Linked DNA regions of Homo sapiens. The protein of the gene in region 1 interacts with the protein of each later gene in a biochemical or structural test. Each region holds a gene or a part of one and is shown in the gene's direction. Other genes may lie near its edges. The genes, in order: FGF2, CSPG4, SDC3 and DCN.

Region 1 (4,031 bases):
AGTTTTCTGAATAGATATTTTCCTAGTCATCTGTGGCACCTGCTATATCCTACTGAAAATTACCAAAATGCAATTAACTTCAATTTTACATTTGGGATTTACAGAAAATAACTCTCTCTCCAAGAAATGCATAACAATTTAGCTAGGGCAAATGCCAGGTCCGAGTTAAGACATTAATGCGCTTCGATCGCGATAAGGATTTATCCTTATCCCCATCCTCATCTTTCTGCGTCGTCTAATTCAAGATAGGTCAGTAAAGGAAACCTTTTCGTTTTAGCAACCCAATCTGCTCCCCTTCTCTGGCCTCTTTCTCTCCTTTTGTTGGTAGACGACTTCAGCCTCTGTCCTTTAATTTTAAAGTTTATGCCCCACTTGTACCCCTCGTCTTTTGGTGATTTAGAGATTTTCAAAGCCTGCTCTGACACAGACTCTTCCTTGGATTGCAACTTCTCTACTTTGGGGTGGAAACGGCTTCTCCGTTTTGAAACGCTAGCGGGGAAAAAATGGGGGAGAAAGTTGAGTTTAAACTTTTAAAAGTTGAGTCACGGCTGGTTGCGCAGCAAAAGCCCCGCAGTGTGGAGAAAGCCTAAACGTGGTTTGGGTGGTGCGGGGGTTGGGCGGGGGTGACTTTTGGGGGATAAGGGGCGGTGGAGCCCAGGGAATGCCAAAGCCCTGCCGCGGCCTCCGACGCGCGCCCCCCGCCCCTCGCCTCTCCCCCGCCCCCGACTGAGGCCGGGCTCCCCGCCGGACTGATGTCGCGCGCTTGCGTGTTGTGGCCGAACCGCCGAACTCAGAGGCCGGCCCCAGAAAACCCGAGCGAGTAGGGGGCGGCGCGCAGGAGGGAGGAGAACTGGGGGCGCGGGAGGCTGGTGGGTGTGGGGGGTGGAGATGTAGAAGATGTGACGCCGCGGCCCGGCGGGTGCCAGATTAGCGGACGCGGTGCCCGCGGTTGCAACGGGATCCCGGGCGCTGCAGCTTGGGAGGCGGCTCTCCCCAGGCGGCGTCCGCGGAGACACCCATCCGTGAACCCCAGGTCCCGGGCCGCCGGCTCGCCGCGCACCAGGGGCCGGCGGACAGAAGAGCGGCCGAGCGGCTCGAGGCTGGGGGACCGCGGGCGCGGCCGCGCGCTGCCGGGCGGGAGGCTGGGGGGCCGGGGCCGGGGCCGTGCCCCGGAGCGGGTCGGAGGCCGGGGCCGGGGCCGGGGGACGGCGGCTCCCCGCGCGGCTCCAGCGGCTCGGGGATCCCGGCCGGGCCCCGCAGGGACCATGGCAGCCGGGAGCATCACCACGCTGCCCGCCTTGCCCGAGGATGGCGGCAGCGGCGCCTTCCCGCCCGGCCACTTCAAGGACCCCAAGCGGCTGTACTGCAAAAACGGGGGCTTCTTCCTGCGCATCCACCCCGACGGCCGAGTTGACGGGGTCCGGGAGAAGAGCGACCCTCACAGTGAGTGCCGACCCGCTCTCTCCGCCTCATTTCCATTTCGTGGGTTCTCGCCCGCTCTCTCCCCTCCAGCCTGCACCCTCCTCCCGGATCTTCACTGCGACCCTAGCGCTCCGTGTGGTTTCTGGCCGCGCGGCCCTCGGCGGTTTCGGGTTCACCACTCACCCCCTCCTTTCCGGGCTGCGGCGTAGGCCCGGGTGTCCCCTGGGCTTTGGGGTGTGCCAATTTGCCCTGTAAACCAGTACCCCCGGCCCGGAGCCGCGGCGCGCCGGGGCCTCGCGGACTGGCTGTCTTCCCGCGGACAACCTGTCGCGTCGGGGATGCCCGCGGCCCCGCCATGCAGCTCTGGCCGCTTCTATCTGCTGCGTGCTGTCCCGGGGACAAAGACAGGAAGGACCGCAGCAGAACGAAACGGTCTTTACTGGAAAAACACCTTTCTAGAGTCCTGCCCTTAAATTCCGACTCGGGACGACCCGAGGCATATGGCACACTACTCTCACCCACTCTGTTTTATATTTTTCCGAATTGACGAAAGCTGAAAGAGCAAAAACAAAAACCAACCAGCCAACCAGCAAAAAATCCAGATGTTGTTAATAAAGTGCCATAGCTTTGTTTCAGTAGTGAAAAGAAGTGCAAACACTTTAATCTTCCACCTGCAGTGACTAGCTTTGAGACCTTGAGCCGACGCTTAACCCCAGAGCCGGTTTCCTCATCGCTCACGTGGGGCTAATATATTACTACCTTGCAGCAGGCTTGAGGATGAAATGAGAATTGCAGTTTTGCTTTCTGTAAGAAACAATGTTTGTGGTTCTAGAAAGAACACTGGCCTAAATAAGGAGTGCTTGGACTTTAGGGGATTCCCTAAGTCTGGAGTGGGGGCTGAAGATTTGCATTTCTAACATGTTCCCCGGGGATGCTGATCACATCACACTTTGAGAGCCACTGGTCTAGAGGAAAGAGAAAGAAAGGGGCATAAGATGAGCCGATTTACAACACTGATGGAATTTGAAGTGAGAGAAAGAGGACTAGAATATATTGTAACCTGTCCTCCTGTAAGTGTATGTAAACATGTGTTTTAAAAGCTGTGTGTTATGGCGTTCCTTCCTTTATGGGTTCCAGGTGGAGAATCTGATTCTCTCATTGCCTGAGAAAAGACCCACAGGGGTCCCAGCGCCACTCCCCTGTAGTTCTGCCTTTGTCTTGGGATGCTAATGGGATGTCATGAGGGGAGGTGGAGGGGGGCTGGAAGAGAAGAAAATTCTACAACCAAACGTGAATTGGCAGAAGAATGGGCAATACACTTTCATATGAGCTGAGTCTTTATTGCTTCCAAAATAGCAACCTGCAAGAGAGGCAAGTATTTAATTTTTTTCAGGCTTGCCATAATTTAAAAATTTTATCAATCACTTAATCCCGTAAAACTGAAAAGATGCTTGTAACCTATTAGATGGGTTAGTGCTAGTTCTCTATTCTGGTAACTTGAACTCATCTATTTCAAAAAATTATCTTTGTGATTGAAGTTTGTTCTGCAGTTGTCTGCTACGCCATCTCAGCTGACAAGGGCAAGGTGCTGTGTGTCCCAATTGGTTTTGTTCTTTCTAGTATCACAAATTATTTATTAAAAAGCATGTATTATGACCAGAAGACAGAAGAATTTCCCTTTAAATTAAATTAATATTTGGGGCTTCCCCTAATACTCTTTTTTTTTCAGACTCTATTAGTTGCTGAATCATTTTTTCTTTGAAGATTTTGATACCCGATTCGCCTTAGAATAAAACTATGTAGAGGTTAGCCAGTGGACATAATTTTGAATTGCATACCACATTACCACCGTTGTAAAAACAACCGTTAACTTTTTCTTCCTAACTGTGAGTTGGGTTTTCATTTTTGTAATCTTACTTTAACTCTGTGGTTCTCAAATGGGGACGATTTTGCCTCCCAGGGGACATTTGACAATGCCTGGAGACATTTTTGGTTGCTGTAACCTGGAAGGGTGCTACTGGCATCTGGCAGGTAGAGGCCGGGGATGCTGCTGAACATCCTACAATACACATTATAATACCCTCAACAAAAACATTTTTGACCCCAAATGTCACTAGTACTCAGGTTGAGAACTCTGCTAACTTTATAACTAGCTAAGGACAAGACATTAAAAGGGAAATGTAGAATAACTCATCCAGACTTGTGGAGACTACCAATTTTTTTAAAATTTTTTATTTCTATAGGGTTTTAGGGACCAGGTGGTAGTTGGTTACATGAGTAAGTTCTTTAGTGGTGATTTGTGAAATTTTGTTGCACCCATCACCCAAGCAGTATACACTGAATCCAGTTTGTAGTCCTGTCCCTCCCCAACTTCCCACCCTTTCTTCCCAAGTCCCCAAAGAGACTACTCTTTTTTTAAAGGATACCTGTACCAGGCAATAGACTGACAAGAATACAAATCTAAAAATGACAAATTTCATCTATTTCTATGTAGCCCAACCTGGACATAAATTTAAGTACAGTATATTATTTTCTCACATATTGGATGTTTACTGATAGTTGACCAAACCATGAGGAGACCCCCCAAAACAAATAAAACTGACCAGAAA
Region 2 (3,615 bases), on another chromosome or scaffold:
ACACTCACACACACACATACACATTCACACACACATACATACACTCACACATACACACTCACACACACGCAGTATTGCTCAGTAGGCAAGGAGAGTGTCCTGCCCCGAGCCAGCAGCCCCAGGGAAAACCCCCAAAATCAGGACACAGTGCCTCGTTCCCCCGCCAGGGCAGGCCCTCTGGCCTGGGCCAGTCCACTCTCTGGGGAGACAGAGGGGGCTGGGGAGAGGAGACGAACTTCCGTTCCCACCTAAGAGCAGCCCCTTCCCCCACCCACATTTCAGGAAGGGGCAGCTATAAATACCAGTGGGACCAGGACACTGATTCCCACGACACCCGCTTCTCCCTGCCCCTTCCCTGTGCACAGTTGCTGGGGCCAGACCAGCTCTCCTGCAGCTAGAGTCCAGCCAGGCAGGCCTGAGGCCTAGCCACACACACACAGAGACACAGACATACGCACACAGGCACACACAGACATAGATACACACAGACATACAGACACAGACACATGCACACAGACACACATACGCACACACACACGCACACAGACATATACACACAGGCACAGACACACACATATGCACACAGACACATACAGACACAGATACACACACACACTTTTACTTCCCACCCTGGTCAAGGAGGAGCAAATCACCCTTTTTGGGAGTCTGCGAGCAGCTGAGAGGGAGCCCCTCCCCTGCCCCTCAGCCCTGACCCAGGCCCCATCTCTCCCTCCTCTGAGTCCTGAGCTGTGGGAACCCACACAGGGAAGCAGGAGGCCAGGCACATGGTGGTGAAACACGGCATTAGAGAGCTCAGGTTGAATTCCAGCCCTGACGCTCTATGCATGACCTTGGGCAAGTGACTCTGTCTTTCTGAGCCTCAGTTTTCTCCTCTCTAAAATGGGGATAAATAATTCCAACCTCTTACGTGTTGTAAGGATTAAGCAAGACACTTTGCCTGGAATCAATGCTCGGTGGACATCTGCTCCTGAAGCTGCAGTCACTCTGCTATTAGCATCTTCTTCCCAGGGTGGAGTGGCCCGGCAACATGGGGACTTCTGCTTAGGAGTGTTTAAGGAAGATTCCGAGGCAAAGGCCTAGAGGAGGTGGCCCCGTGAGTCTGTGTGGGACTAAGTGACATGGAAAAGGAGAGGTGGGCTCTGGAGAGGGTATCAGCCAGCGGCTGCCTGCCAGCCCAGGACCCTTCAGAAGGTGGGAGGGGGTGGGGGTCTGCATCTCTGTGGCTAACTGGGCTGAGGCCCACACCCCTCTCTCAGTGCTAGAAGAAGTGGGGACAGCCCCTGCCTGGCCCTCCCCAGGGCCTGTTTCTCCCAAGCCTAACAGCCCCTAGGATGGGGCTCACTGGGCCGGGGCACAGCAGGAACCCCCTGTCCCCAGAGCAGGTGAGTGAGGAGAAGAGAATGAGCAGGCCCCAAGACCTTTTATGGGACGGGGACCCTAGAAGCCTGTCTTTTCCCTGCTCTCTACCAACCCCTCGCGAGTCCCTCTCTGGAGGTGGGGGCTGGAGGCCAGGGCCCAGGGACGTGGGACAGCTCACCTGCCAGAGTCACCATGGGGCTGTTACCACCACTCATGATATAAGCAGTGGTGGCTGCATCACGAGGAGCAGAAATCCGGACTGAGGGAGGGGACAGCCCTCTCCGCTCTGGGCTGCTAGGACCCCTCAGTGGTATGGGTGTATGTGAGCTCAGAGTAGGGGGAGGTGTGGGGAGGTGACTGAGGTGACTGCAGAGTGGGGTGCACAGCTCGGGGCAGGGACACTGGAGGGACCCCGGACAAGGGCAGGCCTGTGCCTGAGCCCTCAGGGCAAGATCCCATTGTGCAGGCCCCCACTGCCTTCACCCACGTAGAGGTGACTCTTCTCCACAGACCCCTGGACAGGGCCCGGCCAGGCCCCCCACCCACATGTTTTAATGGAATCCAGGTGGCTGCCCCTGGCCAAGGTTCCATCTCTGGGCATCTGGGGCCCGTGTGCTTCTGGCCACCCATCTGGAGCCTGGCTGAGCCCCTCCAGGGGTGGGTACTCAGACGGGGGCTGTCCCTCCAACCGTGGACAGCCCTGGGGCCAGCGAGATATTGTAGAGGCCTGAGCCAGCTGGCTGATGGTGCCACAGCCCTTGGGCTACCTGGCCCTGCTATGTGGCCTTGGGGAGACCCCTGGCCCTATCTGGGCCTCTGGGTGGAATCTTCAGTCTCCTAGGTCAGCTCTAAATTCTGAGCTTGAGCCTCTTGGGAACAGGACAGGGGCCTCTGCCTCTATCTAGAGAGAGCCAGCTGCTTGTCCTGGGCCAAGCAGCAAGGCAGGCTAGGCCTGGAATGGGGCTGAGAAGCAGCCCAGCCTGCCAGGACTCCCTGGCATTGGAAAGCCACTTTCCTAAGTTGGCATGGAGCCCTGGGGCTCCCCCCGGGATGAGAGCAGCGGCTCCTCTCCACCCCCGGCTCCCATCTTCCACCCCCTGGCCCCAGCCCCGCCCTGCCAAAAATAAACCCAGACCACCCCATCTTGTACCAGCCAGACCCACCCAGCCCCTCCAGAGCCAATTGAGTCACCACTCAGAGCTGCTCCTTTTTTAACTGTCTGAGTCACTGCTTGTGGCTCCATGACACATGCCCCAGGCTACGGTTACCCCACAGCCCCTACAAGCGCAGCCAAGGGAGGGGTCTGCGTAGAGGCTGGCAGCAGGTGTGAGTCCAGGCCATAGCCTTAGCTTGTGAGCCCTCCAGGCCTAGGGAACTCACTCCATAACAAGCCAGAGACCAGACCTGTCCCTCAAGGTCCCGGCCGTGCCCAAGACAGCCCTTGGGGATCTTGGTGACAAGGTCAATCTGGGCTCTGCCCCACCGCATTGCGTTGCCTCCAACAGGCCTGGGCCTTCCCCGTGGAGACTGCCGGGAACGGAGGGTCTCCAGCCCCTAGACCCTGGAGGCTGGGGGTGGGCGAGGCCACAGAGACGCCTGCTTCCTCCCTCCTCACCGGCTCCACCCGGACTCTGACCACGCTGCCTGGAGCACCATGAAGACTCTATGGGACGGAAGCCACACTTCAGTCTCCCCTCACGGCTTCTGTCTGCCCCTGCGCAGGGTCACCCGGGCTGCAGAGCACCCCCGATCTCTCAGTCCATCCCCCCATCCCGCTCTCTCCATCTCTCTGTCCTTTCCCACCCCTGGCTGTGGTTCCTCCATCTCTTTCTGTCTGTCTTTCCTACCCTGTCTCTCTGTCTGTCTGCCCATCTCTCCAGTCCTGCTCTGTTCTCCTTCCCTTCTCCTTTACCGGGTTCCACGGCAGTCAGAAGTGCTCCCTGCCGCCAGCACCCCACCCGTCCCCAGGGCCCTCTCTGCCTTCTCAGTAGACATAACAGACCCTCACCTCCTCCCATTCCCACAAGGGACTCTGGGCCCCAGGGACCAATCCTGAGAAATGTTCCGCTCCCCTCACCAGGTCCTCCCGTGCCCCAAAGTGCAGGCTACATCCTGTCCCAGGGAGTGTCAGGATCCCACAGGCACTTCCTTGGGGGTTGACAAAGGCGGGCAGGGGGGCCTGGGAATGGCCCCACCTCCCAGTCCATGCTAGAGCAGGGGCCTGTAAGCCTCAAA
Region 3 (3,615 bases), on another chromosome or scaffold:
GTACCCTAGGGCATGTGTACAGGCAGCTAGGGGTGAAGTAGATGGGTGAGTGTGTGCTGGTGTGGGCTGGGCTGTATTGCCTATAGGCTGTGGTGAGTATACAGATTGGTGTGGGCAAACATTGCACTTAATAGTGTGTGTGTGTATCCATTGGGGTGCATAGTACATGCAGAAGAATATATATGCATGAGGATGTTGGGCTGTCGTGTGTGTGTGTGTGTGTGTGTGTGTGCATGCGTGCGCGCGTGTCTTGGGGGTATGGAAGCCTCCTATCAGGCATGGGGGGGTTGTGTTTACCTGGAGGGGGCACAGTGAGGGTCAAGGAGAAGCTGGCAGCGTCCTGGGGCTTTTGGATTCAGTTCTCCTTTAAGGGAATGGCATGGATAATTATGCTTATTATGATGGATTATGCAAATGCGGAGGTCGTTTGGGGGTCAAAGCCTGCTTGTCACCCTCCTCCTCAGGCATTCTGTGACTTCTAAGGCTTTCCCTGCTGCCTCCCAGGCTCCGTTCCCCAACCCCTATTTCTCTGTCCCCTCTGGGAGTTGCAGCTACCAGCACCCCCTCTGTAGTGTTCCTGAGAGGGCCTCATGAGTCCCAGCGCCCATGCCTGCAGGTCCCAGGTGTCCTCGCATTAAGTTCCCGCTGAGCATCCCAGGTGGGCTCAGGGGTGACTGGGCCGTTCCTCCCCCTGCACACCCTGCCATTGGGGATGCTTGCTGTTCGGAAAGAATGTACTCTTGGAAGCAGGTTTGGAAAATTACTGAGGTGGCCCCTTCCCCAGCCTTGCCTCATCAGCATGAGGCTAAATTAGGATGTGTGAGTTCTCCCCTCTGCCTCCCACCCTTGCCTTCTCTCCTTCTCTCGTACCCCCAGCCCACCCTCCCCGTCTCTGCCCCTCTGCCCCCTGGCCTCCCTCAGTCCTCGACTCTCTGTCACCGTCTCTGTCTCTGCCTCCCCCTTCCCTGTCATCCTCTCAGTTCCCCCGTGATCTCTCCCTCTCCTGTACCACCCCATCTCTGTGGGGAGCTGCAGCTCCTGGTCGTTAGCATGGAGAAGATGGTCGTCATGGTAACGGTTGTCATGTCGATGGCTACTGAGCTGGGGATGAATAGTATGTAGGTGAGCGCTACCTGAGTGGAGGCTGATGGGTTTCCAGGAGGCTCGATGCTTGTCTCTGAGCTCAGAGCTGCACAGCAGGCCCAGCTCCTCCTGCCCCATGTGAGTGGCTGTTTTTACCCCCAGGCATGCTGACACGCTGAGCCCTCTGTGGCTGCTTTTAGGTGAGCATGTTTCAGTGTGTGTCTGTGCATGTGCTGTGTCTCTGGGGTGTGTCATTTCAAGGGTCTATGTGGCATGGGGGTAGGTCTTTGGGTTTGTACAGGCTTTTCTTGGAGCAGGAAGTTAGGGGCTAAGTGGCACTGGTCACTGAGGAATCTTGGGGACTCCCTTGTTTTGGCACCCACATTTACTTCAGTTGGGGGCTTCCAGGGACCACAGACCTCTTAGTATCCCTCCTCCCAGCTAAAGGCCTCCCAGCCACTGCCCAGCCTACTGGGAAGGATAGAAAGACAGTGAAGACAGCCCTGGGCAGGGGCAGGAGCCGGAGCCTGGGTCCCTGCTCAGTCCCCATTCTTCTGTGTGACTTCAGGCTGCTTGCCAGAGAGCTGGAGGGAGCAGGGACTCCAGGTTGGCTGGTTCAGGTTGTGGAGGGGAGTGCCATGGGGAGTTCTAGCTCCTCCACCGTGGGTATTTTTCTTTCTGGGCAGAGGGGAGCTGGGGAAAAGTTGGGCCCTACTGCTCTGAGCTCCTAGAATGTTTAAAAAAGGAGGAAGACCCAGCAATTCGTCACGGGAGAAATTACACTAATTGTTCCACTCCATGACTCACTGGTAGAAAGTAAATACTGATTAATTCATTACTTTGAGACTATGTGTGTGTGTGCATTTTGTGAGGGGGCACCTCCTGGCTCCCTGCCCTGGCTGGGCTGGGCAGGGCTCTGGAGCAGGTGGTTGAGGCTGGGGATATGAAGACAGGATTGAGATCCTCACTCTGGCTCTGTATCAACTCCAGAAGGGGGCCCATCAGTGGCAGGGGGTGAGAGGCTGGGCCCCAAATGCAGGGCCATTCCAGCCCTCGCCTGCTCACACATGCCCCAGGGCTCCCCACAGCCAGCCCAACATTGCGGCTGCTCAGAGACCACCCCAGACCTACTGAACCACTGAATTTAGTTTTCACAATATTCAGATGTGCAGTCAAGATGAAAAATGACCAGTTTCTAAGAGAAAGTCATCAGCCAGACACTGAAAGCCTTCTGGGATGGGACCCCAGGTGACTTGCCACACCCCACCCCTGCCCTGTGAATTATTCACACACGCACTTTCCTTCAGGGTACACACAAGATCTCTGTCACCCACGTGGATGTCACTCAGCCCACAAGGGCACCTGTCGCCCTTCTGGGCTCACCCAGGCTGCCAGTCTCGGGTGCCGAGCCCTGTGTCCACCTCTACCTTCCCTAGGCCCAGCGCTGGCGCAGTGAGAACTTCGAGAGACCCGTGGACCTGGAGGGCTCTGGGGATGATGACTCCTTTCCCGATGATGAACTGGATGACCTCTACTCGGGGTCGGGCTCGGGCTGTAAGTACCCCCCTCCCTACCTCTGCCTGGGGGCAGTGACCAGTCTGTATCCAGCCTCAACTCTGAGAAGCCCACGGGGGGCTTGCTTCAGTGAGGCAGGGGGCATTCACTGCCTGGGTCAGGCAAGTTCTTCTTGCTCTGGATCCCCAGAACAAGAAGGGCAGAACATCCTTCTGGGGATAGAACAAGACCTGGGAGGACCTCAGGGCCCAGAATGTCCAGGTCTCCAGGGTCCCACGTCTGCATCTTTGTGTGTGCTATGTGGCTTTCTCTGCAGACCTTGCTTGGTTCCGGTGGTCCCGTCAGGTGCAATAAGCTGTGGCCAATGGTGGGGTTAGGGCAGTGATGACACAGGGCAGGTGCTTCAAGTGGTGCCTGGGATGGCCCCGCCCTGGGGAAGGGGAGCCAGGTCAGCTGGGTCTAGCAGAATCTCGGGAGAGAAGGGCACCGCGAACCCCACTCTGCCATGTAGCAACTGTGTGCCCCTCGGTGCTCCCCCTCCCTGAATCCCTGTATTTTCACCTGTGGATGGTGAGAAATACGACTTCTTCTCAGTGCCTCTAGGAGGGTTTGGGATAGGAAGCTGGGGTCTGGCACAGAGGAGGAGCTCTCAAAATGGTAGCAAAAAGAAGGCAGCTGAGACTGGGCCCAGTGAGGGCACGGGCTGGCATCTGAGGAGATGGTACGGGGTCTGCACGCCACAGAGCTGGCTCCCCACAGCCCTCGCCTCTGGTCTCCCCTCCTTAGCCAAGTCCTTTGAGCCTCTTTCAAATTAATCTTTGTAAAACCCGTTTATATTGGGTCACATCTCTATTCGCAAAGTTCCCTGGCTCCCCTCCCTCCTGCCTGGTTCCGAGCCCAGGAGCTGGCTGTGGCTTCTCCCTCCCCCATCCCCTACTCCCCATCTCATTTCCTCCCAAGTTCCTTCACTGTCCCGGCTTTGCGTCAGCCAGATTGCTCAAGCAGTTCCCCTGCCTC
Region 4 (2,532 bases), on another chromosome or scaffold:
ATTATCTTTTTTATATTCCTTTACCGTTCTCCATAATGCTTTTCCAAGAAACTGGTTTATTCCACAATTTTATTGCAGAGGCAGCTGCAGGATATCATAATCTTATCTTTATACGAAGGAAGAATTGCCTAATCCCTCAAGTAAACTAAAAATGTTTTATACAGTCATTTCTCATTCATCCAATGTTCCAGGCAGTCCCAGTCCAAGACTGCCCCTTCACACACACAACAACTCTTCACAAGACTTCACTGTCCTTCAGACTCTCCTGCAGCACAGACATTCGAGGTTGCTGAGTCGACATTGCAGTTATTTCACTCTTGATTTTGCTGCTCAATTTTAAGTTTCCACACTTATTGCTAAAACATTCCTTCTAGTGGATCTGTTTATGTATTCAAGCACACCATCTGTCACAATTATTTCAAATCACAGGTCTGTGACAGACTGTCAATTTCACACCACAAAGTATAATAGTGGAAAACAAAGTAAAATCAAGAAAGGGAGAACACTAAACTTATTAAAACCATATACAAGCATACGCATTCAGGAAACTAAAACAACCTTCAAAGAAGTTGAACAATTTTGAGCCAAAAGAAAGGGCATATGCACACCCTACCCCAGTATAAGATAACCAGAAAAGGACTGGGTGAGTTGCCTCCTGAGTATTATGACTGCCATCAATCACTTAGGCATTGGAGATCAGGAGACTCTTCCCAGGCCACACATTCTGCAGTGACTGTGAGGGCTGAATGAATGCTTCCAGGCCATCAGGAACAAGCATAGAAACACAAATCAATTTTAAAATACACTCAAAAATGTCAAAATAATCCAACTTTTTTGTCTTGATCAGATATATCTACTAGCACATATTACTTCATTTTTTCAGCCAATATTTATTAATAACCTACTGTGTGCTTGACAGTGTTCTAGTGGCAGAGACACAGCAGTGCATAATGCCTTGCCCTCTGAAGCAGATGTTGCAGCAGGAGGAGACATTCCAGGACATGACAATTAAAGTGGAGGAATGTCAAGCAGAACTGGGGAATAAGGGATGTGAAGGGGGTGAGACTTGCTATTTTATATAGGATGGTCGGAAAAAGGACTTATCAGGAGTGACATTTGAGCAGGGAGATGAAGAACTGAAGGGAGCAAGCCAAGAAAAGAGGCCCTGAATTTGGAAAATACATGGCACGTTCCAACAAGAGCAGAGAGGACAAACGTGAGCAGAGTAAAGTGAGCAAGAAGAGATAATATATGATACAAGGTCAGAAAGGTAATGACAATCGCATCCTGTAGGACTTTTTAGGCCATTGTAAAGATGAGCTTTTACTCTGAGTAAGACAGAGAGCTATTAGAGGGGTCTCGGTAGAGGAGTGACTTGATTCAACTGTCTTTGAGAGGATCCCTTTGCGTGTATAGACTGTAAGGTAACAGGAATAGGCCAAGAGAGAATATTTCGGATGCTAGTGCAATAATCAGGTGAGAGATGATGAAGACTTTGACCTGGATAATAGTAGAAAAATTGTTGAGAAGGGATCAAAATATGGGGTTTGTTTTGATGGTAGAGAGGCCAGGGATGGCTGAATGATCAGATGGGGCATGAGAGAGAAAGAAAAGAAACAGAGATGACTTCAGGAATTTTGGCCTGGGCCACTGGAAGGATGAAGTCACCATTTACTGAGATGGTAATGACTGGGAGGTTGAGCTGGAAGAACTGAGAATCAAATATCTGGTTTTGAATCTGTTCTTTTTGAGATGCATATTCAACTTCCATATGGAGGTGTCAAGGAGGATTTAGATCTAGAATTTTGGAGCTCAAGGGAAAGGGTTGAGCTGTAGACATAAATTCTAGAGATGCCGGAATATAGATTGTGATCCTTCTTTATCAGCACAGAAATGACTTGACTTTGTCCAAACTAAGCAATCATACTGTACATGTTAGCAACACATTTTACAGGGCCAATTTGGCCTTTTGCAATGTTCTGTGGTTTCTAAGATAAATAAACATATTATATGTTTCCCTCTGGATGCCTTTGCTATGATCCTGTCAGCATTTCCAAAACAGTTCTTGCTTGAACACCACCAAGGAAAGAAAAAAACCTCTTGAGAAAGAAATCATTGTTTTTTTTTTTTTTTTTTTAAATCCCTGTGTTTTGGCTTATGAGTTTAAAACTTACAAAAACAGTCTAGTTTCTGTTTTCTTCAAGAATTCACATTAACAAAAGTGTGGCTTGGTGCCTGTTTTGAATGTGAGTTGATAACTTGCTGGTGGTTTGACAGTTATAAACAAACAGTCTTATAGCATAAAGAAAGCATATTCCTGAAACTGCAGGAGGTCTCATTGAGCCTCAGGCACTATACCAGCATGTTTAACTAGAAAATCATGAAAACACATACAACTTCTATAGCTAAGGCCATTTTTACATGGAATTGCAGCATAAAATGACTCCATCTAATTCTGTAAAAGTTTATATTGATGACTACTTTATAAAGCACCCATATTGCCACTTGGTCTGACAAAGATATGTGAAAAAT

Evidence for each region.
Region 2: the proteins of FGF2 (region 1) and CSPG4 form a complex in vitro, tested with the Homo sapiens proteins (one study listed by BioGRID).
Region 3: the proteins of FGF2 (region 1) and SDC3 form a complex in vitro, tested with the Homo sapiens proteins (one study listed by BioGRID).
Region 4: the proteins of FGF2 (region 1) and DCN form a complex in vitro, tested with the Homo sapiens proteins (one study listed by IntAct).

What each region holds. Positions count from the first base shown.
Region 1 is NC_000004.12:122,825,910-122,829,940, forward strand, and holds the start of FGF2 (fibroblast growth factor 2 isoform 18 kDa), read left to right. Parts: upstream 1-1,265; coding exon 1,266-1,443; intron 1,444-4,031. UniProt on the Homo sapiens protein: Acts as a ligand for FGFR1, FGFR2, FGFR3 and FGFR4. Also acts as an integrin ligand which is required for FGF2 signaling. Binds to integrin ITGAV:ITGB3.
Region 2 is NC_000015.10:75,702,832-75,706,446, reverse strand, and holds part of CSPG4 (chondroitin sulfate proteoglycan 4 precursor), read left to right. Parts: intron 1-3,615. UniProt on the Homo sapiens protein: Proteoglycan playing a role in cell proliferation and migration which stimulates endothelial cells motility during microvascular morphogenesis. May also inhibit neurite outgrowth and growth cone collapse during axon regeneration.
Region 3 is NC_000001.11:30,877,645-30,881,259, reverse strand, and holds part of SDC3 (syndecan-3), read left to right. Parts: intron 1-1,169; exon of another isoform or gene 1,170-2,319; coding exon of another isoform or gene 2,320-2,331; intron 2,332-2,519; coding exon 2,520-2,637; intron 2,638-3,615. UniProt on the Homo sapiens protein: Cell surface proteoglycan that may bear heparan sulfate. May have a role in the organization of cell shape by affecting the actin cytoskeleton, possibly by transferring signals from the cell surface in a sugar-dependent mechanism.
Region 4 is NC_000012.12:91,139,977-91,142,508, reverse strand, and holds the end of DCN (decorin isoform a preproprotein), read left to right. Parts: 3' UTR 1-2,025; downstream 2,026-2,532. UniProt on the Homo sapiens protein: May affect the rate of fibrils formation.